Regions from separate parts of the Homo sapiens genome. Here region 1 is linked to region 2. The links come from fine-mapping of genetic effects on gene expression. A gene starts in region 2. The other region holds a variant in brackets. All regions are shown on one strand. Distances are from middle to middle.

Region 1 (10,840 bases), 43 kb before region 2:
ACCTCCACTAGTGCTTATGAAATGGCCCACATTCAATTCAGCTGAGTCAGATAAATCCAGGTGCTGATAAAACCAACATTTTTTTTTTCCCTGAAAGATCTGAGTGTAGGAAGTGTCTAAATTCTTGGTTCTTATTTGACATATGTGACTACAGGTGATCAGGCTTCTGTGGCCTCCCCCAGCAGGCACCCCTGTGGCAGGAGCTGTCCACCTCCTCGTCCATCACTGAAGAGAGAGGCCAGGCTCTTGGACACTTGAAGGAGGTGCCAGCCTGTCTGCTGCCTGTCTTCACACAAAGCAGGGCCCCTACAAATATTCGTGCCTGTGGCCTCACCCGTGGTCTGCAAGTGGCATTGACTAGACATGGGTGACTTGGGGGAGCCCATTCTCTGAAGACACAGCACTGGCGTCCATTGGAAGCCTGGAGCTGGGGACCCATAGCCTTTCATAGCTGGTGTAAGGAGCCATCTATTCAGAGTAGTGGAGGGCTGGGCTCCATGAGCAAGACCATTCTCTGCACAGGCAGAGAAATTGAAGGACGGAGAGCTGAGTGGCTTGTCCAATGCTATACAAGCACAGAGTGCAGGCAGCTAGAACCAGCGAAAGGAGGAGAATTTGAGGCAATTTGATTCTTCTGGGTTTAGTATGATTCTTAAGGCTAGACAAAACCTAAGGCTTTTCCTGGTCTAAGTCCTGTTTTGTGTTTCGTGTAAAGGGCCTCTTGAGATTTACAAAACAAGACCTCATCTTTAGTTTTTGAACTTGTAGAGGAGTTGCTTCCATCGCAGATCGCTCGTGGCCAGACTCTGGCTCCTTCTGGCTGAAGATGACGCCTTTTGGCTTCAGGAGGATCCTGAACTGGTTAAAGGAGGAATACAATGACCCTCCAATTTATGTCACAGAGAATGGAGTGTCCCAGCGGGAAGAAACAGACCTCAATGACACTGCAAGGATCTACTACCTTCGGACTTACATCAATGAGGCCCTCAAAGGTACGACGGGCCCGCCCTTCCCCAGCGTGCACCTTCCCCTGTTGGAAACATCTGCTATTTGCAGGAGTGTGATACAGCGTCCTTGGGCCACAGTAAGAAGAGAACGATAAGCCTTCTTGCTCCTGTGGGGGTTAAGCTTTGCTTTAGGGCCGCACTCTGAGTTTTTTTCCTTCCTATGTCTAAGCTCAGCAAGCAAGCCCAGTGGCCTGATGCCACCAAACCCTAGTTCCTGGCCTGAGTCACTTGCTCCCCTTGATCCTCCCTGATGTCGGAACAGCAGTGCCCTCCTGAGAATGGTCTGGGTAGGGCCCAGGAGGAGTAGGCTGTGTGGTTGCCTGTAGGGTCTCTTAGTCTCCGAGCAAAAGTTTGAGGCTCTTGGCTCAGCCCTAACAACTTGAGATGGGACCATGAGGATAAGAGAATGGAACAAATGCTGAGTAAAAGAGCAAGCAATGCACCAGCAAAGGAAATGATTAGAAAAATCCTACCCAGCTGAAATATATTCTATCTAAGGGCTATTTTCTACAGGGAGAAGCATTAACATTCTAAGGCACTGACCAAGATCATGGATAGAAGTGTAGGTGACCCAGGGAAATTAGTCCACCCATGTTCCCGACTCCCATTCAGGGCTGAGCCTTTCTAAAGATGCTGGTGGCTCTACATCTCCATCCACAGAGGACCCGCTAACAGTCACTGCATGCAAAGAAAGGGGCAGCTTTCTCACAGAGCTAAAGCCAAAGCTTACCGCCATCTGTGAAGGCGGTGGGGAGAGCAGTAGGCAGACCTGGCTTCCGAAGGCCTGGCAGGAAGCTGCCTTATGAGATAGGAAACTTATGCCTAGTCCTCTGTGTTTGAGCAGCTGTGCAGGACAAGGTGGACCTTCGAGGATACACAGTTTGGAGTGCGATGGACAATTTTGAGTGGGCCACAGGCTTTTCAGAGAGATTTGGTCTGCATTTTGTGAACTACAGTGACCCTTCTCTGCCAAGGATCCCCAAAGCATCAGCGAAGTTCTACGCCTCTGTGGTCCGATGCAATGGCTTCCCTGACCCCGCTACAGGGCCTCACGCTTGTCTCCACCAGCCAGGTGAGATGTGGCTCTGGGAGGGAATAAAGCCTAAGGGTGAAGGGCAGGTGGAAGGGCCTCTCTCAGTCTGTTTTCTTCTAGTTTATTACCCTCCTCTCTGCTGCCCCATCTCCTTCATTCATTCAACAAATGTTTATTTTCTTTGAATGCTCCAGACATTTCCTGGGGTGGAACAAAGGACACTTAGGGTCAATGTTACACCTAGAAACCAGAGCCCTGACCTGGGAATAAGCAGGTCTAGACTCTTCTTCCAGCCCTACCACTAACTTGCTGTGCACTCATAGATAAGAAACCAGGCACATGCTTCAGGGCAGTTATAAGGATCAAATAAAGGGACCATGAAAGTACAATGCCTGCACCATGTGGGTGCCCCGTATTTGTTAAATGTAAGAGTATAAATCACTACACAAATGTAAATGACAATTATCCAGTTTCAATTATACAGGCTGAGAATCCTTCATCTGAAAATTCAAAATCCAAAATACTCCAAAATCTGAAACTTTTTGAGCATGACTGGCATGACAACACAAATGGAAAATTCAACACCTGACCCCATGTGACAGGTCGCAGTCAAAACACAGTTAAAGCTTTGTTTCATGCACACAATTATTTAACATATTGTATAGAATTACCTTCACACCACGTGGATAAGTTGCATATAAAACATATATGAATTTCATATTTAGACCTGGGTCCCATCCCCAAAATATCTCATTATGTATATGCAAATATTCCAAAATCTTAAAAAATCCCAAATCTGAAACACTTCTGATCCCAAGCAAGCATGTCAGATAAGGGATATTCAACCGTATTCTAATTGCTGATAGAGATGTTTAAAAAATACAACTGCTTAACTTCACTCAGAGGCTCCTGACACACAGTGAAAGGGGATGGGTACCTCCACCTCGGCATCCCGTCAATGGCTGTGCGGATTTGGGGTACCGTGCAGCCTCTGCTGGGGTCTCAGAGATCTGAGAACTCAAATCAGCGCCAGAGCACCAACCACCCTGTGTCACACTCTCCTAGATGCTGGACCCACCATCAGCCCCGTGAGACAGGAGGAGGTGCAGTTCCTGGGGCTAATGCTCGGCACCACAGAAGCACAGACAGCTTTGTACGTTCTCTTTTCTCTTGTGCTTCTTGGAGTCTGTGGCTTGGCATTTCTGTCATACAAGTACTGCAAGCGCTCTAAGCAAGGGAAAACACAACGAAGCCAACAGGAATTGAGCCCGGTGTCTTCATTCTGATGAGTTACCACCTCAAGTTCTATGAAGCAGGCCTAGTTTCTTCATCTATGTTTACCGGCCACCAAACACCTTAGGGTCTTAGACTCTGCTGATACTGGACTTCTCCATAAAGTCCTGCTGCACCGTTAGAGATGACTTTAATCTTGAATGATTTCGACTTGCTGAGTAAAATGGAAATATCTCCATCTTGCTCCAGTATCAGAGTTCATTTGGGCATTTGAGAAGCAAGTAGCTCTTGCGGAAACGTGTAGATACTGGTCTAGTGGGTCTGTGAACCACTTAATTGAACTTAACAGGGCTGTTTTAAGTTTCAGAGTTGTTAAGGGTTGTTAAGGGAGCAAAAACCGTAAAAATCCTTCCTATAAGAAGAAATCAACTCCATTGCATAGACTGCAATATCATCTCCTGCCCTTCTGCAAGCTCTCCCTAGCTTCACATCTTGTGTTTTCCAGAAAATAAAAACAGCAGACTGTCCTTTCTCCTATGGTTGCCCCTCCTTGAGAAAGTAGGTTCAAGAGAAGTTATGAAGTCACACAAGCCATCTGGAGCTCCGATTAAGCTTTCTCACCAGACCAAGTCTTTCTGTTGACATTATATTCCTTGGGGCAAATACCACAACATGCAGAAAGTGGCCTTTTCCCACCCCTCGAACACCCCCACTGCCACTTTTTATGCCATCCCCAGCTCTCCCATCTGACCTTGGTTCATTTAGTCTGTTTCCTTCCTCCTTTCCCAATTTGTGGTAGTTCTAAACGGCACATAGGACAACTATCCATATTCCTTTGTGTCTTCCCAAATGCTACTCCTTCCACCTAGGATGCCCTTTCTTCTGAAAATGCCTTTAAGTCTCAGCTGAAATAATGTACTTCCTCCTCTGAATGGCTTCCCTGAAATCCCCAGGCAGATTCTCCTTCGTCTGCTTTGCTTGTAAATATCCCCTATTACAACTTGACCATCCAGTTTCTATACTGGAATTGCGTATTTCTCTATCATCAGCTTCTTAAGGCCAAGGACCATGTCTCATTGTCTCTGGCAAGCACAACTTGGAGAGAGCAATGAAAAGCACAAATGCTCCTTTCGTGTGTTCACCCATTCACATAGCATTTCCAGGGCAGTGGTGGGAGCAGAGATATGTTCTTTATAATCCCCTCAAATGTGCTGAGAGACAATCTCAGTGTGAAACACCTAAACACTTGATTGGCCCATATATTACATCTAGATAGCTGGGAAAATGTTTTGTAACAACAGAGTAATTTTGGGCTGGTCTTAAAAGGATGATCACACTTGAAATTTGCTTCTTGTAAGCATTCCTTTCCCTATCAAAACATTCCAACGCCATGAGTCCCAACCTGGCAGTCAGGAGCTTGTGGTGCACAAGCATTTTTCTCCATCAATCGACTGGAAAAGTTTGTCAGATGGGGGTGGGGGTGGTTCTAAAATTGATATTAAAGACATTTGTTGGCCGGGCACGGTGGCGCACACCTGTAATCCCAGCACTTTGGGAGGCTGAGGTGGGCAGATCACGAGGTCAGGAGATCGAGACCATCCTGGCTAACATGGTGAAACCCCATCTCTACTAAAAATACAAAAAATTAGCCAGGCGTGGTGGCGGGTGCCTGTAGTCCCAGCTACTCAGGAGGCTGAGGCAGGAGAATGGTGTGAACCTGGGAGGCGGAGCTTGCAGTGAGCTGAGATCGCACCACTGCACTCCAGCCTGGGCGACTGAGTGAGACTGTCTCAAAAAAAAAAAAAAAAAA[G/AG]ACATTCTTTGGGGAGAAACTCAGTATCATAAGGTGCCAATTATACCTAAATAATCTCAAAACTCAACATCACTTTTTTGGGACAACACTAACAAAATAATATAAAGAAGTTTCATATATGAAATAAACTTGTAAGAAGAGCCAGGATAAATCTGGGGGAAGAAGATTAAAACACATTATAAAGCTAGCTTAGTTTGGTATAGCAGAGAGCAAACAGATCAATAAAGGAAGAGAAAGCCTAGACACAGAAGCATCTGCACATGGAACAGATGCCCACCTCGCAGGCAGTGCGCCTACTCGGGGCAGAGGGCCCATGAAGGCAGTGAGGGAACAGGCTCCTGGGGATGTTAGCCACGGGCATGGGAAGGAGCCAGGTCCTTTCCTTGGATACCAGATTTAAACATACAAAAAGGAAACCATAAGAATCCTAGGATATAAAAAAATTAATTTTTGAAGTGGGAAAGGTATTTATAAGCAAGACTCAAGACCTGGAGGTCATAAAGGAAAACACAGATAATACTGTGGAAAAAATTACCAAATATACTCAACAAAAGGGAGGGAGAAGCCAGGCGCGGTGGCTCACGCCTGTAATCCCAACACTTTGGGAGGCCGAGGCAGGCGGATCACGAGGTCAGGAGATCAAGACCATCCTGGCTAACACGGTGAAACCCTGTCTCTGCTAAACAAAATACAAAAATTAGCCAGCTGTGGTGGTGGGCACCTGTAGTCCCAGCTACTCGGGAGGCTGAGGCAGGAGAATGGTGTGAACCCAGGAGGCAGAGCTTGTAGTGAGCCGAGATTGCACCACTGCACTCCAGCCTGGGCAAGCGGGAGACTCCGTCTCAAAAAAAAAAAAAAAAAAAAAAAAAAAAAAAAGAGAAAATATTCACTGCATATGCTAGCAAATGGCTGTAATGTACACAGTAGTCTTATAAATCAGTAAGAAAAATATGAAAACAAAAATTGGCAAGGAATACACGGAGCTCTCACGATAAGCCAAACTGATCAATAACATCAAGATGCTCACTTCATTCATGATAAATACAATGCATACGAGATTGTATCATTTTTCATCCATCATTTTGACAAAGCTAAGAAAGTATGATAATACAGTGTTGGCAAGGGTGTGGGAAAATGGACATTCTCATGACTGTTGGTAGGGGTTCAAATTCACACAGCTTGTAGAGGAGGCAATGCAACAGCATCTTTCACAATCCAAACTGCAAACACTCTTCTTTCACTTAGCAAGTTATACAAACATATTCTACAGGTATATTTTCACAGTAAGACTATACCTCCCACTGAAGGTTGCTTACGATGGCAATGTTTGTAATAGAAAAACAAAATTGTGTAATAACCACTGACTGCCACCAGAGCATGGACAGTAAGCTGAATGCAGTACATTCATCAAGCAGAATGCTATGCAACCATTAAAAATGAGGTAGCTCAGTGTCGACAGGAAAAGATCTCAAGACTATGTAAGCAAAAAAGCAAGATGCAAGGTAGAATATATAATATGATCCCATTTATTTAAAAAATAAAGATTACATATTTGCTTATATACGCATACAAATTTTCTGAAAATTACATAAGAAATTGTTAATAGATTACCTCTGGAGAATAGTACTGGGGTAAGAGGTGAGGGGGCAGAATTCTCATTTTACAGCCTTATATACTGTTGTGAATTTTTTTTTTTACCATGTACTTTTAAAAATACAAAATTGAGGAGGGAACCTCCTACTCCAAAATTACGAAGCATTCTTTTATGTACATTTCTCTAAGAGTTATATTTGATATTTTTCAAGGCAAACTGACTTGAGGTACTCGATGTTTTTAAATGTATTTCTAATAATTATTAGTAGGGTCACACCTATTTGACAGCTTTTTTAAAAAGTCACATATTGCTGTATTTTTAAAGATGACAAACCTTTATTTAAATGAGATGCTTGCTGGAGATTTTCTTTTTCAAACTCACTTTTTAAGTTATGGAAATAATATCACTGCTGAAAGTTTGGAAAACATATATAAGGGTGCCAAAAATACCACTAAAATCACATAAACCAATCTTACCATTATTAATGGTGTGATTTCTTTCTTTACATATCTATTAATACCTAGTACTATCTATGTAGAAAATGTGTTTGCAAAGCTGAGATCACACTGTACCTATAGCTCTGGATCCTGCTGCTTTTTCCCCCAACACTTAACAGATGCTCAGTAAACATGTTAAACCAAGTTGTTAATTAGTATTGTACCATTTCTCCTCATCAAAAATTACTTCTATAGAAGGCATTTAGTTGGTTTCCAGTTCTTGAGTAAAATAAATAACACTTAATGAGTATGTCTTTACCTAAACATTGTCTGCATTTATGATTTAGAAGAAGCTACTGGATCAAACGGTATGAAATATTTTAAGTTTCTGATAAATGTTTTTCAGAAGAATTATACTGGTTTTCACTCCTACCAACAGCGCAGCCTGTGTTGCTGTTTCCTTGCCAACACTGTCACCATTTTAAAAAGTCACTGTTATTTCACAGGTAAAAAATAGAAAGTTTGCTCTGAGAAAATTTCTTCCTCCCATTACAAAATAAAGTCACAGTCTTTCCGTATGTCCACTCTAGAGTGCTATCTTCCAATCTAAAACAGAGGAACTGTTTTCAAACATCATTAGTTTAGCGGTCTCCACTAACAAAGACATACGGATAAAGTAACATGTAAGTCAGATTAAGAATCTCAACTTTTTAAGAAAAACCAAATGACTAAAGGCATATTTTTATTCTATACTTTTTGTCCTATAGGTACTCTAGGTCCTTGTGTAATTATTGAGGACAAAACGTCAGTTAAAGGTGAGAGGGAAAACTAGGTTGCAGACTAGCAGCTGTTTTGCATCTCACAAGAACAAAGGCCTTAACAAACCGTATACTTTATGCAAACAAAGTGATGCCTCACTGACTTAGGAGACAAGTCACATGCCATCAGTGTGTCAGAAAATTTCTTTCTTCAGTGATAGTTAAGGTAACCTCGCCAGCTACTTTCCAGAGACAGCTCCAGGGCAATACTGGGGAAAAAAAAAAATCAGAGACATAGGACCTCAATAGAGCCCTGTGCAACAAAAAGATGCTAGATAACAAAACTCAAAGCAAAACTAAGATCATTCCAATTTAGGGGAAAGTTTTTTTATTCAGTGTTTAAGATTAAAAACTACAAGATTTTGCTTGCAGCTGATGAGTAAAAAGAGAAGTTAAACATAAATTCTCATCTGAGTGGCTAGTTAAAATGCTCTGACACCGAGTCAAGTTACTCAGTGACATACCAGTTACTTTGGGCTTAAGAGTCTTGGAGCAAAGTAGCTCTAAACAAAACGTGTCATCTGAAGCATAGGGCTAATGGGCATATGAAATACTAAATAAGAAGCTGATGGAGGCAGGCTGTGGCAGATTTTTGGTTCTTTTAGGGTTCTAGCAGTGGTTGCCATATAAGCAAGGACCTAGCAGAGAGTTATTTCCTGTCTTTACTTTTCTGAGTTAAACACCTTCAACCCACACCCACTAAGCAGGAATAAAGAGACATTTTATAGACCAGTTGGAAAATATAAAGCAGTCCCACTTCTCCAGTAGAATTTTAGTTGAATTAAATCATAAGAGAAACAATGATTATTGCACATATTATACTTGTCACACTACATCTGTTGAGTGGAATTTCCATTCCAAGTGTTGTTTTCATCTTCACCATCATCTTGAGTCCTTAATCTATAAATTTTCCCCTCCTTTTTAAAGTCGTCTCCACGTTTTTCCAGCACTCTTTTTCTCACTGGTTCCCTGATACGAAAAAGAGGGAGCAAGGGGAAGATGTCATAAAATAAAAACAATAGTAATACAAGCTGTTTCCAACTTCCATCAGTACAGGCAACTAAGTTTTACTTTTAATGCCATCTAAAGTAAGGAAAGTCCATGGGAGACCATTATATCTACTAACACAGTACTAGACTTTAGCAGTCTTTGGTAGTTTAGCTTCATCTGATCTCTAAGTCAAGCCAGCCAGCCAAATCATATATTCCATTTCCATTGTGTTTCTTAGTGACTTAATAAGCATTAGAGGAGTGTGACCATTTGCCAACTAATCTTTCCTTTGTTATTTATGCAAGCCGACATTATCTACTAAAACATTTGTAACTTAGCACCCTAGAGACTATCCAAAGCTCCAGTCAGCTTGACAGAAAGGGTCAATTTTAAATCCTTCGCAAAATCTTCAAGAATGACTTATTTATAAACAATTAAGAATGAAGAGGACTTCCTATTCTGAAAATACAAAGGTATAAGGATAAAATTTAAGCCAACAGACTTTTATAACTCTAGAGGGGAGAGAAAAAAGGAAAAATAATGGTGGAACACAAAGCTTCACCCTCTCTTTGACACACCTTTTATTCCATCCTTTGCTCTAATCTAAGACCTTTCTCTTATTTGAAAAAAGTGTTGTTTTTTGTTCTTTTTTGAGACAGGGTGTCCCCTCTGTTGCCCAGGCTAGAGTGCAGTGGCACGATCACGGTTCACTACAGCCTCAAAACTCTGGAGCTCACACAATCCTCCTGCCCCAGCTTCCCAGGCAGCTGAAACTATAGGCACACGCTATCACACACAGCTCACTAAAAGTTTTTTTTGTAGAGATGGAGCCTCACTATGTTGCCCAGGCTGGTCTCAAACTTCTGGCCTCAAGTGATCCTTGCACCTCAGCTTCCCAAAGAGCTGGGATTACAAGTATGAGGTACCACACCCAGCCTGAAAAAAGTTTTAAAAATCCATACAACGAGCTCTCCTATATTACAGTAATTCAGTATTAAATGCTCCCACCCATTGCTCAGTAAGAGTTTTAAGATTCAGCCTTGTTTGAGCTTCCCTCTGTCCTCACTACAGTAACGTACTTAGTAGGTAACTGGTCTTCCTGCCTAACAGTTATGAAATAAGATAAAGGACAAAGCAGCCCAATCACAATACTTATATGTCATTACCTATGGAATCCATAAACACATGACTAGGGCTTCTCCATACTGAGGGCAGAGAAAAAAGAATTTCTATTACTTATCACATAGGACTGGCATGAAGATTTGTTATAATGCCTATAAAAGGCCTCATAGAGTGCTTAACAGCGGTGTCCATTTCAGTAAGTTACATTATTATGTAATTATTAGAAAGGGGCATAAACTTACTTTCTAGGAAAATACTTCCCATTAACCTGTTTCAAGTATATAAAATCTTAACAAAGATAGGAGTTAAAATTGTCAGTGTTGTATTACTATGCTAACCATTGCATGCTATCTGCTATAAAAGTTGTTTTGTTTTTGTTTTGAGACAGGATCTCACTCTTACTCTGTCACCCAGGCTGGAGTGCAATGGCACAATCTTGGCTCACTGCAGCCTCAATCTCCCGGGCTCAAGTGATCTTCCCATCTCAGCCTCCCAAGTAGCTGGGACCACAGACATGTGCCTGGCAAATTTTTAAATTGTTTTTGTACAGACAAGGTCTCACTATATTGCCCAGGCTAGTCTTGAATGCATAAGCTCAAGTAATTCTCTCGCCTCAGCCTCCCAAAGTGCTGGGATTACAGGCGTGAGCCACTGCATCAGGCCCTGGTCTCTTGGTTAAGGGATTAGTCCAAAATAATTCTCTGAGAGAGAATTTTCAAAGCAATAACCTGTTTCCACAATTTGGTCCTTCTCTGAATGATCCAGACAAGGCTGTCAGCCGGTAGATAAAAGAACC
Region 2 (10,482 bases):
CCCAAAGTTCTGGGATTACAGGCATGAGCCACTGTGCCTGGCCTATATTCTTTTTTTTTTTTTTTTGAGACAGAGTTTGACTCTGTCACCCAGGCTGGAGTGCAGTGGCATGATCACAGCTCACTGTAGCCCCAGTCTTCAGGGATCAAGTGATCCTCCCCTCAGCCTCCCAAGTAGCAGGACCAAAGGCACACACCACACTCCTAATTTTATTATTATTTTTTATAGAGACAGGGTCTCACTATGTTGCCCAGGCTAGCCTCTAACTCCTGGGCTCAAGCGATCCTCCCACCTCAGTCTCCCAAAGTGCTGGGAGTGCCCAGCCCAACATCAACATTCTTCTAGTCCAAGAGTATCACTATAAATCAAAGACAATACTTATAAATTTTAAAATTAATAAAATATTAAAACATAAACAAACCTTTTGGTATCGATTTTAATAGCAACAAAACTGTTTGAAGATGCTTCTGTAACTTTATCATCTTCCCAACTTGCAGCCATCTGTGTAGACTGTTCATCATCACCTGTAAAACATTTCAAAAATTCTTATACCAGGCTGGGATCTGCTGATTGCAAACTCTTTTCCCCTGGAAAACGGAAACCTCAAATAAAATATAATCCCACCTATACCACTTTCTGCCAAATTTGAAAACTGAATTTTCCACTAAATGAAAAGTGTGACTGCATACACAGTTCACATCATGAAGAGCAATGAAAACAAACTACACTGGACTATTTAAATGATACAAAATATTTCATAAAAGAAGCCATCTAAATTATGATGCGCAAAGTACCACAATAATAAGCAGTCATCGGTGCAGTGCCTATTTGGGCTTTTGTACATAAGATTTTATTAAAATAAAAGTTGTGGGCTGGGCTCGGTGGCTCACGCCTATAATCTCAGCACTTTGGGAGGCTGAGGCGGGTAGATCACCTGAGGCCAGGAATTCGAGACCAGACTGGCCAACACGGTAAAACCCCATCTCTACTTAGCCAGGTGTGGTGGCGCATGCCTGTAATCCCACCTACATAGGAGGCTGAGGCAGGAGAATTGCTTGCACTCGGAAGGTGGAAGTTGCAGTGAGCGGAGATTGCACCACTGCACTCCAGCCTGGGTGACACAGTGAGACCGTCTAGAGAGAGAGAAAAATAAAAAGTTTGATATCTGTCCTTTATGTGGCACCTTTCTGTTGAGTTCAACATCTCCACTCCACAGCATTTATACTCCAAAATTAATCCAAGGTAGACAGAGGCAGGTACAATTCTGTTTGCAATTTTAGACTTGCCTTTTATTGTAGGTATGCTAATTATAAAAGGTATGCTAACCTATAACTAATCTATGGTGATAGAATTCAGTATAGTGGCTACCTTGATAGAGCATGAAGGAGCCTTCTGGAATGCTGAAAACGTTCTGTATCTTTTTTTTTTTTTTTTTTTTTTTTGAGATGGAGTTTCACTCTTGTCGCTCAGGTTGTAGTGCAATGGTGCAATCTTGGCTCATTGCAATCTCTGCCTCCCGGGTTCAAGCGATTCTCCTGCCTCAGCCTCCTGAGCAGCTGGAATTACAGGTGCCCGCCACCACGCCCAGCTAATTTTTTTGTATTTTTAGTAGAGATGGGGTTTCACTATGTTGGCCAGGACAATTTAATCCACTTTGGCCTTCCTCATTGCAGTTATTCGTTTATGGTAACTCCATCCTTCCAGTTCTCAGGCCAAAAAACTAGTTTTCCTTGATTGTAACTGACTCCAGCTCCAAAATAAATCAAGAATGTAACTTTCTTACCACTTCCACTACTAACTACCCTGATCCAAGCTATCACATCTCACCTGGAAGCCTAGTAAAAGCCTCCAAATTGGTCTTCCTGCTAAGTCTATTCTTAACACAGCAACTTTCTCTAAAAAAAAAAAGATCACATCAACCCTCTGCTTAGATCACACAATGGCTCCCCATTTTCCTCAAAGTAAAAGCCAAAGTCCTTACAGGGCGCTTGAAGGCCCCATACATCAGGACTCCAACTACCTCTGTGACCTCATTCCTTTTTCCTTTCTTGCTATTCTTTTTCCTTCTATTCCTCAAATATGAAAGACACTTCAGCCATAAGGTCTTTGTACTAGTTGTTTCCTCTGCCTGGAATGTTCTTCCCCCAGATAACTACATGGTTAACTTCCAACTCCCTTAAAACTTTGCTCAAATATCAGCTCAATAAAGCTGATACTTAATCACCCACTTTAATATTACAACTCTCCTACTCACTTACTTTAAAATTACACTCTTGAGACATTCCCAAAGCTCCCTTATCTCCTGTTGTTTTTCTGTATTACTTTCACCTTCCAATATACTATGCATTTTTAATTATGTTTACTAGTATCTGTCTCCCCTAACTAGAATGAAGGTTCCATGAAGGCAAGGATTGGTTCCATTTTATTTACTGACAAGACTAAAATCTCTACAAAACATAGTAGGCACCCAATAAGTACTCTGTGGAATAGCTAAATGCCTAATATAGTAAGTATGATGGCATGCCTATAATAATTGACTCTAATGCTGTTTATTTGCATATATTTTGTGAGATGAGATTCAGGAATACCAGAAATAGGAGTTTGAGAAATTTGACCATGGAAAAGTAAACGGGGTCGGGCACGGTGGCTCACTTTGTGAGGCTTAGGCGGACGGATCACGAGGTCAAGAGATCTAGATCATCCCGGCCAACACGGTGAAACCCCGTCTCTACTAAAAATACAAAAATTAGCTGTGCGTGGTGACACACACCTGTAGTCCCAGCTACTCAGGAGGCTGAGGCAGGAGAATCGCTTGAACCAGGGAAGTGGAGGTTGTAGTGAGCCGAGATTGCACCACTGTACTCCAGCCTGGCGGCAGAGTGAGACTCCATCTCAAAAAAAAAAAAAAAAAAAAAGTAAACGGGACTAGAATGCATCCACAGACCAAATGCTCCATTAAGAATGCTCCATTAGCAGACTCCTAGATGTTGAAGATGCAAAATAACGAGAAGTTACTATTTGCAAGTGAGATCACTCTAAATGCATCTTCAGAAACCATCTGATGAGGAGAGATTAAGATTCCAAATAAATGACTCACCTACCAAAGAAAAATAAGTATATGAGAATATTCTTACTACGAACCCTTCTCAGAGAAGGCTGTGAAGAATGAGAAATCCTTTCCATTCATTCTTTTATATGTTCACTATTTTATTGCATTTATTTTGTTCTAGGCATTGAACTGTATACTAAATATAAACCAAATGAGACATTGTCTGCCTTCAACAGAGCTTAAAATCTAATGGTATACAAAATTTTTAAACAAATAGACACTATACGTAATTACAGTAATAAATGCTACTAAAAAGAAATCTATGAGAGAAAATAACAAGAGAACTCTTTATAATGGTCAGAGAAGCCCTCTCTGAGGTGACAGTTAAGCTAAAATCTAAAGGATAAGAGAGCTCAGCCATGCCAACAGCCAGAAGAGTTCACCACGCAGAAGGAATACGTGTGTAGGGAAAGGCCTATGTGATTTGGAATGTTGTGAACAATCCGGAGCTCAAGAAGAGACTGAAGAGTTAAGAGTCAAAGATGACTCTCATATTTATGGTTTATCCAACCAGATGTATGGTAGTGCCAATCAGATGCAGAACACTGGGAGAAACACAGGTTTAGGCAGCACTTACACGTTTAGGCTTGAGAATCCTGGGAGGATCTAAACAGTGATATCACGTAAGTAGCTGAAAGTATAAATCTTGCTTCTTGTGAGGCTGGTGCATCACTCCCTCACCTATACTGTACCATGTGATTAGGGTCCCAGATGTCTCAACCCTACTGGCAGTGTCTGTCCTAGACTCAGCCTAGTGGTGGCAGCAGCTGCTTGAACAGCAGTGGTGGAAAGCTGAATGGAATTACTCAATGCTTAATGACAACTTTCCTAATACTACTGAGTGGGATGACTGATTGCTAACTCTGGTATCTTTCATTTCTTATTTTTAATCAAATTATCAACTATAAAGTTAGGTGGGCCTAAGATTTTAGGAGAAAACAGCATATCCTTTGTATCGGCAGTATCCTAAGCGAAGGCACTTAAAGAGAGCAACACGAACTCAGAAGCAAAGAGTTGCAGACCCTCATACAGCCAGTCTTTCCGATGTAAAATAAATCTCAACTGCTCAAAACCTAAAGGCTTCTGTGGTCTACATTCACCAAAAAAGGCAGAAAATGGCGTCTATCATTAACAAAGTTTGGCCTACCTACCTAGCAACATTAGCCAGTGAACAGATACCTTTACTTCAGTCTCGTCAGATTATTCTACCTTCCCAAGTATTAAATGAATATCGTTTTGTTTCACTTACTTTACACAGCCACAATACTTTGAAAATCATATTAATTTGTTAGCTGAAGTAGTAGTAATCTCTCGTCTCCTAACATCAACTCTACAATATTCTTTAATTCATCCATGAAAATGTCACTAACTAAAGACCACTTGCCTAAAACGTTTCCCACTTGAACAGTTCTATGAACCAAAGTGTACTCTTGAGATCACGTCTTCCAACTATAAAGACATCTTTCAAATTTTCCATTAAGTTGGTATATTATTACTGAGATCTTAGACCTAAGAAAATCACAAGTTCTGACTTCAGAGTTATGAAGAAAGCTCTAAGCAATCTGTAAGTGTTTTGGTTTCATGAGTCCAGTATCTACATACTCCTAGAGTGACACTAATCCTACTTAGTCTTGGGGATTAACTGGCTAAAGCTCTAAAAAAGCTAGCTGGATTTTGGAACAGGTCAAGGGACAGACAGAGACTCCTTTGTGAGATTGCTAACAGTCTTCCTGCAAACATTCAAGAGTCATTATATTCTAAATACATGTAATACATGCTCATCAGTAAAAACTTAATTGAAGAAAGTATATATATATACACAAAACCCCGAAAGGCAAGACCTATAACTTTATTTAACTATTCCAATAATTTGTACTAGAGTTTCCAAATATTAATATTTGTTAATAAAAATCTCTCGTTTCTTTTTTTAAATTAACTGATTTACCTCAAGAGTGCCTTCTAGGAATGTTTGGACATTTGTTCAAAAACATGACTACCATAATCCAAATTTCTGATTTCTATACCAATTTAAATCACCAATTTACAAATTGTTCAGTTTTTTCCTTAAGAAACAAAAAAGCCAGTTTTTTTGAAGCTACTAAAAAATTTGACTGTTAAGACATGTAAATCCTTTTTGTGGCCCTAGTGCAAGTCACTTTATGACTGCTGACCTAAGTGCCTCATCTATAAAATGGGGATAATTAAACCTGTTCTATTTACTGCAAGGATCAACTGAGATATTAGGAGAAAAACAATTTAAAATGTCAAAAACCTACTAATGTACACAATAAGCATAGTGTCATTTACTTTTCCTTTCATTTTCAATCCATTTTTTTCCTTACGGGATTACAGAATTAATTTATGTAAAGTATAATATAACCCCCAGACAGCATCACAGAATCTAAACTATTCAAGCTCTTCTAATAAACAGCATTGAGCTAAAAACTTGGCGTAACAAAACAATTATAAATTCCAAATTTAATGCTAAATGACATTCACATTTCAGTAATTCGTTCTTCACTGCAGTGCATAAAGTTATAGAGCTATTAAAAGACGAGTTAATTATGAATAAACCGTTATTAAACACAAATAGTTGAAGAAATACACCTCAAATTAACAACAGCCACAAACATTGATTTGGTCCATGTAATGAGTATGAGCAGAACCGTAGAGGCAGGGAGTTCACTGTAAATCTACAAGATTTCAGTAATAAAACAGGAGAATATGGAGCAAAATAGCCTAGAGCAACAGAGAATATATGAGTTAATAAACGTTCTCAAAGTCGTGTAGATTTTAGCCTAAGAAGACAACAAAGGGAAGAAACCAAGGACTGAACGTCTATTTTCTTTGAAACTAATGGATTTTTTTTAAACTTACATTATTTCACACTAGATCCCCTACCAAGACTGCCATAAAGAAAAATTAAACCTCTATTCAGCTCAAAAGTTTACGTTTCAGGAACGTACTAACACCAGTAACCGTGAACATCAGGTGGTTTCTCTTTGTTGCTTATCGATGACACAGCTTTCTTCCCGACAGTCCACAACTAATTACAACCCAACTGCTTGCCTAATGGCCCGTTCCTACCTCCATCTAAACAGCAGTAACGAAACGGGCGTTCAAGCAGCACAAAGAGGGTCCTTGGTGACAGAGAGGGACGTCAGGGAGAGGGTCGCGGGGGTCTGGCTGCGCAGGGGAGAGGCTCGGGGCGACGAGCGGGGCTGGGCGGCTGGGGCCTGCTGGCCGCGTCCGTCGCCCCGAGCGGGGAGATTTCGGCGGGCCTCGGGGCGCTTTGGAGACCAGGGCCAGACGGTGCCTCCGGCCCGGCTGCCGGGAGACGCAGCGGTGGGGCCAGGCCCACTGTATCTCAAACGAACCGGGGAGGCGCTGAACAGCCACGGGCCGGCAGCCCGGGCCTCGCAGACACTGAGGAAAGGCTGGGGGCGCCCGGGGCCTGAAGGAGCAGGGCGCTGAGGGTCTGCATGGCCCCTCTGGGGGATCTGGCGGCGGAGTCGCAGCCGTCCCTGGGGCGCGGGGTAGTAGTGGCAATTGTGCGAGCCGACAGGAGCCCGCGTCTCGGGGAGGGCGGGCCGGCGGCTGAGGTATACAAGAGGATGAAGGTAGGCCGGAGGGGTGTCCCGGCCGCCTCTCGAACCCCTGCCTCCTTCACCTGCCACGAACACCACGAAGACCGCGCCGCTCCTTTTGGCCGTCGCGATGGCGGCCGGAATGGCGCCCTGGAACCACAGCATCGCTCCCTTCGGGCCCAGGCGCTCGCTCGGTGTGTAGTCTCCGCAGTCCCGAAGCCGGCTCCGCCCTCCGTCTTCGTCCGGCTCTGCGGCCCCCGCAACCTTGGCTGGTTCGGCCCCCACCTCCGGCTCCGCACAAGCGCGCACGCCCGTCAGCGGCACCCGGAGACGCGCGCTAGCGCGCGCGAGAACACCTCACGTCACAGTCGCAACCCGTCGGTGTCCGTGCCCCAGGACCTTCTCTCGTTGGCGAGTCGATGGTGCGGGCGCGCGCCCGCTAGGCCTCCGGTCGCGCAGTCCAGGAAGTGGAGGAAAGCGGTAAGAGGGATGACTAACCGCTAAGACACGTCGGCGGCGCCTGCAGTGAGGCATGATGGGAATTGTAGTCCACTTAGGCTTATTCGCCTCCATATTGTGGAGCATGTAACTGTGGGTTCTGAGGCACAGCTAAAGGGGGCAGTAGTGAGGGCCACTACACATTCTATAAAGGGGAGAGGGAGAAATAAGTGTCACTCCAACTGGCATATGCTATTCTCGGCCTCGTTGAGACTCTCAGTGTGGAGGAAATAGTCCTCGCATGGAACTAAATGGGCTTTGTCGGGATTAACTCCGAGGCTTTGATTTCTTCTGAACGTAGCCCAACCTTGCAGAAAAACGGGATAAAAACCGCAAGTCACCTTCTTTAATAACCTGTAGTCCATGTGCCTAAGCGGAGGAATTGGTAGAACGCAGGCCTTCAGCAATTTCCTAGACACTGGATAGAGATCATTTCAAAACTTCAAAACGCGTTAGGCTATTGCCACAGCTACTTTTTAAAGTAACACAAAGCAGAGAATAGATTATTTCTTTTCCAGCTACTTTCCATGGTAATACAAAAGAGACTAGATAGTGATTTATTTTCCAATTTTCTGGGAGAATGTCCTATAATCAAGATGTGGCGCTTTGTGATTGGCTGCCATTAAATGAAAACTGATCCATATTTAATACTTTCATGAAATCACATGGTCTGTAATAACTATTAGCTAAAGGCTTGCATGGTTTATTTAAAGTTGCATATACTATTATGTTAAATTCTACATCAATTAAATTTATCCTCCAGCAGTACATCTATCTGACAATCTTTGCAAGATAAAGGAAGTGATACATCTGAATATACCACCTTTCCTACAGATATTTTCCCTAAAAATAGCTAATTATTTGCACTCCGATTTTTGTACTTTTTTTCCCAATCAGGCCTCTCGTATATAGTGTTATTATAAACTGAGACATAATGCTGATTAGGGACAGTTGCTTCTATAGGACAACAATCCTACAGAAAAATTAGAATTGACCTTTAACATCAACTTTAATGGACTTCTGGAAATTTGATCAATCTAGAAATTATTCCAATAGAGCTATGTCTTTAATTATCTCTAATTTTAGAATTAAATAAGAATCCTTCATAGTTTTATATTCATTTGTCAAGTGTTTATCACTCATCTTTTATGAGCTAGGCATTGTGCCTGGCACTGATAAGGAGGTGAGGCAGTCAGAAGAAGGCCCTGTCTTTGTGACTGTACAGTCTAGTCAGGAAGACAGACATTGAATAAGTAATTATGAGTGATGATAAATGTCACAGAAGGGTAATTCAGAGTGCTACAGAAGTGTATGAGGATGGGACCGAACATGGGCTAGTGGAGTCAGAAAGGGCCTTCATGAGGAAATGACGTGTCGGGGAACTCTAGGTAGGTGAAGGAGAAGGCTATTCCACATGAGGCTCTGAAGCAAGCAAACACAGTGCACTTGCAGAACTAAAAAATGCCCAGTGTGGCTATAACATAGAAAGAGGAGTGTGGTACAAGTGAGGCTGGAAAGCTAGGCAAGGATCAGATGATACAGAGTCTTGAAAATCATGTTAAAAATTTTAAGACATTTTTCTAAGGATTACAGGGAGCCATTGAAAAATTTTAAACAGAAGAGTTGGCCAGGCACAATGGCTCATGCCTGTAATCCCAGCACTTTGGGAGGCCGAGGCGGGCAGATCATGAGGTCAGCAGTTCAAGACCAGCCTGACCAACGTGGTGAAACCCCATCTCTACTAAAAATACAAAAATTAGCTGGGCGTGATTGCACATGCCTGTAATCCCAGCTACTCAGGAGGCTGAGGCAGGAGAATCGCTTGAACCTAGGAGGTGGAGGTTGTAGTGAGCCAAGATGGCACCACTGCCCACCAGCCTGGGCGAAAGAGCAAGACTATATCTCAAAAAATAAATAAATAAACAGATACATATAAGACTTCCATTTTTAAATTGTATGATAGCAATTGAATAGATTGGATTTGAAGTGGAATGGCTGAATGTGAATAGACCAGGTAAGAGGTACTTATTCATGTATTAACATAAGGGAGATAGTGAAGTGGATGCTTTTGATATTCTGGAGACAGACCCAATATATTTTGTTGATTACATGTGGAGGTTGAGGAAGAAGGACTCAAGAAGGGATTTTGTGGCCAGGTGTGTTAGCTCATGCCTGTAATCCAAGCACTTTGGGAGGCCAAGGCAGGAGGATCACTTGAACCCAGGAGTTTGAGGCTGCAGTGAGCCATGACTGCACCGAGCCATGACTGCACCACTGCACTCCAGCTTGGGCGACAGAGCAAGACCCTGTCTCTAAAAAAAAAGAGAGAGAGAGAGATTTGGGGTATCTGCCTTGCAAAATCGTAAAGAAGATGGTACTGAGATAGGCAACACTGAAAGAAGTGAAGGATGGTGGGGAGGTTGTTCATGAAGGTGTGAGTTCAATATTAAACATGTGTTTGGAGTACTAGAGAGATATTCACATGCAGTGTTAAGTAGGCAGATAGCTATTAGTCTTGGAGCTCAGATAACAGTTCTTAACTAGAGATAGGAAAGTGAGATTTATCTACATACAGGGGATCAATGAGGCACTGGAAGATAACGATACCATCACTTAGGGAGATGGTGCAAAGTGAGGTGAGACACGAGCATGATTGAGGTCTTAGGGCCTCCAACGTTTATAGGGTTGTATTAAAAAGTATAAACCAGTAAAAGAGACTCAGCAGGAAAGGCAGAGTGTGGGGTGGTGGAAGAAAATGGGAGAGTGTGTGATATCAAAGAAGCCAAGGGTAGAGAGAATTTTAAGAAAGGAGAAGCAGTGGTGTGGAATGCTGCTGTTGGGTCAATTAAGATGAGAGACTAAAAAATGTCCATTGTTTTTAGTAACACAGAGGTCATTTTAAGCTTAGCAAGAGCAATTCTCATGGTTCTTGTGTACAGAAGCCAGATGGCAAAAGGTTGAAAAGTAAGGGGAGGTAAAGAGTCAGTGAGTGTGAAGGTGAGAAGGAAGAAAGGAACATTAGCTGGACAGGAATTTGGATTTGAAAAGACAGCCTTTTTAAAGATGGGAGAGATTTGCATAAAATTAAATGCTAGTGGAAAGGAACTGGTCTTAGATTGAACAAATGGGAAAATGGAAGGCCCCTCTGGAGATGGGAGGGAAAATGGGGTATACAGCACATTCTGTTGATGGCCGATCCAGCAGTCATTCTTCTACCATGCCTTCTATTATTCCTTCCTGACAGAATTCACTTTCTACTGAGAGGCAAAACTGCTGGGTGCAGTAGCT

Alleles and levels. Positions count from the first base shown, and alleles are read on the strand shown. Sizes are in standard deviations (SD) of each study's normalised expression.
For the expression in monocytes after LPS of the gene that starts at base 6,936 in region 2, AG is the low allele of the variant in region 1 and G is the other (moderate effect, 0.66 SD a copy in Quach 2016).

What was found.
Region 1: its variant is fine-mapped to the expression of UBXN4 in monocytes after LPS (Quach 2016, PIP 0.95). The same link has a PIP of 0.9 or more in monocytes after R848.

The regions. Positions count from the first base shown.
Region 1 is chr2:135,780,810-135,791,649 of GRCh38, reverse strand. UBXN4 (UBX domain protein 4) reads right to left here. Exons shown (of 13, transcript NM_014607.4): 13 at 6,594-8,901. The coding sequence ends at 8,763. It overlaps LCT (lactase), which reads left to right. Exons shown (of 17, transcript NM_002299.4): 15 at 769-992; 16 at 1,852-2,079; 17 at 3,106-3,800. The coding sequence ends at 3,326. Among named protein-coding and RNA genes, the nearest start is that of LCT-AS1, 34 kb to the left of the region's middle. The variant G/AG (reference allele first, on the strand shown) is at 5,084.
Region 2 is chr2:135,738,309-135,748,790 of GRCh38, reverse strand. UBXN4 (UBX domain protein 4) reads right to left here and starts at 6,936. Exons shown (of 13, transcript NM_014607.4): 1 at 6,780-6,936; 2 at 422-524. The coding sequence starts at 6,861. LOC107985946 (a long non-coding RNA gene) reads left to right here and starts at 6,147. Exons shown (of 1, transcript NR_163478.1): 1 at 6,147-7,962. RefSeq lists a silencer at 6,349-6,398 and enhancers at 5,695-6,470, 6,799-6,858, 7,189-7,318.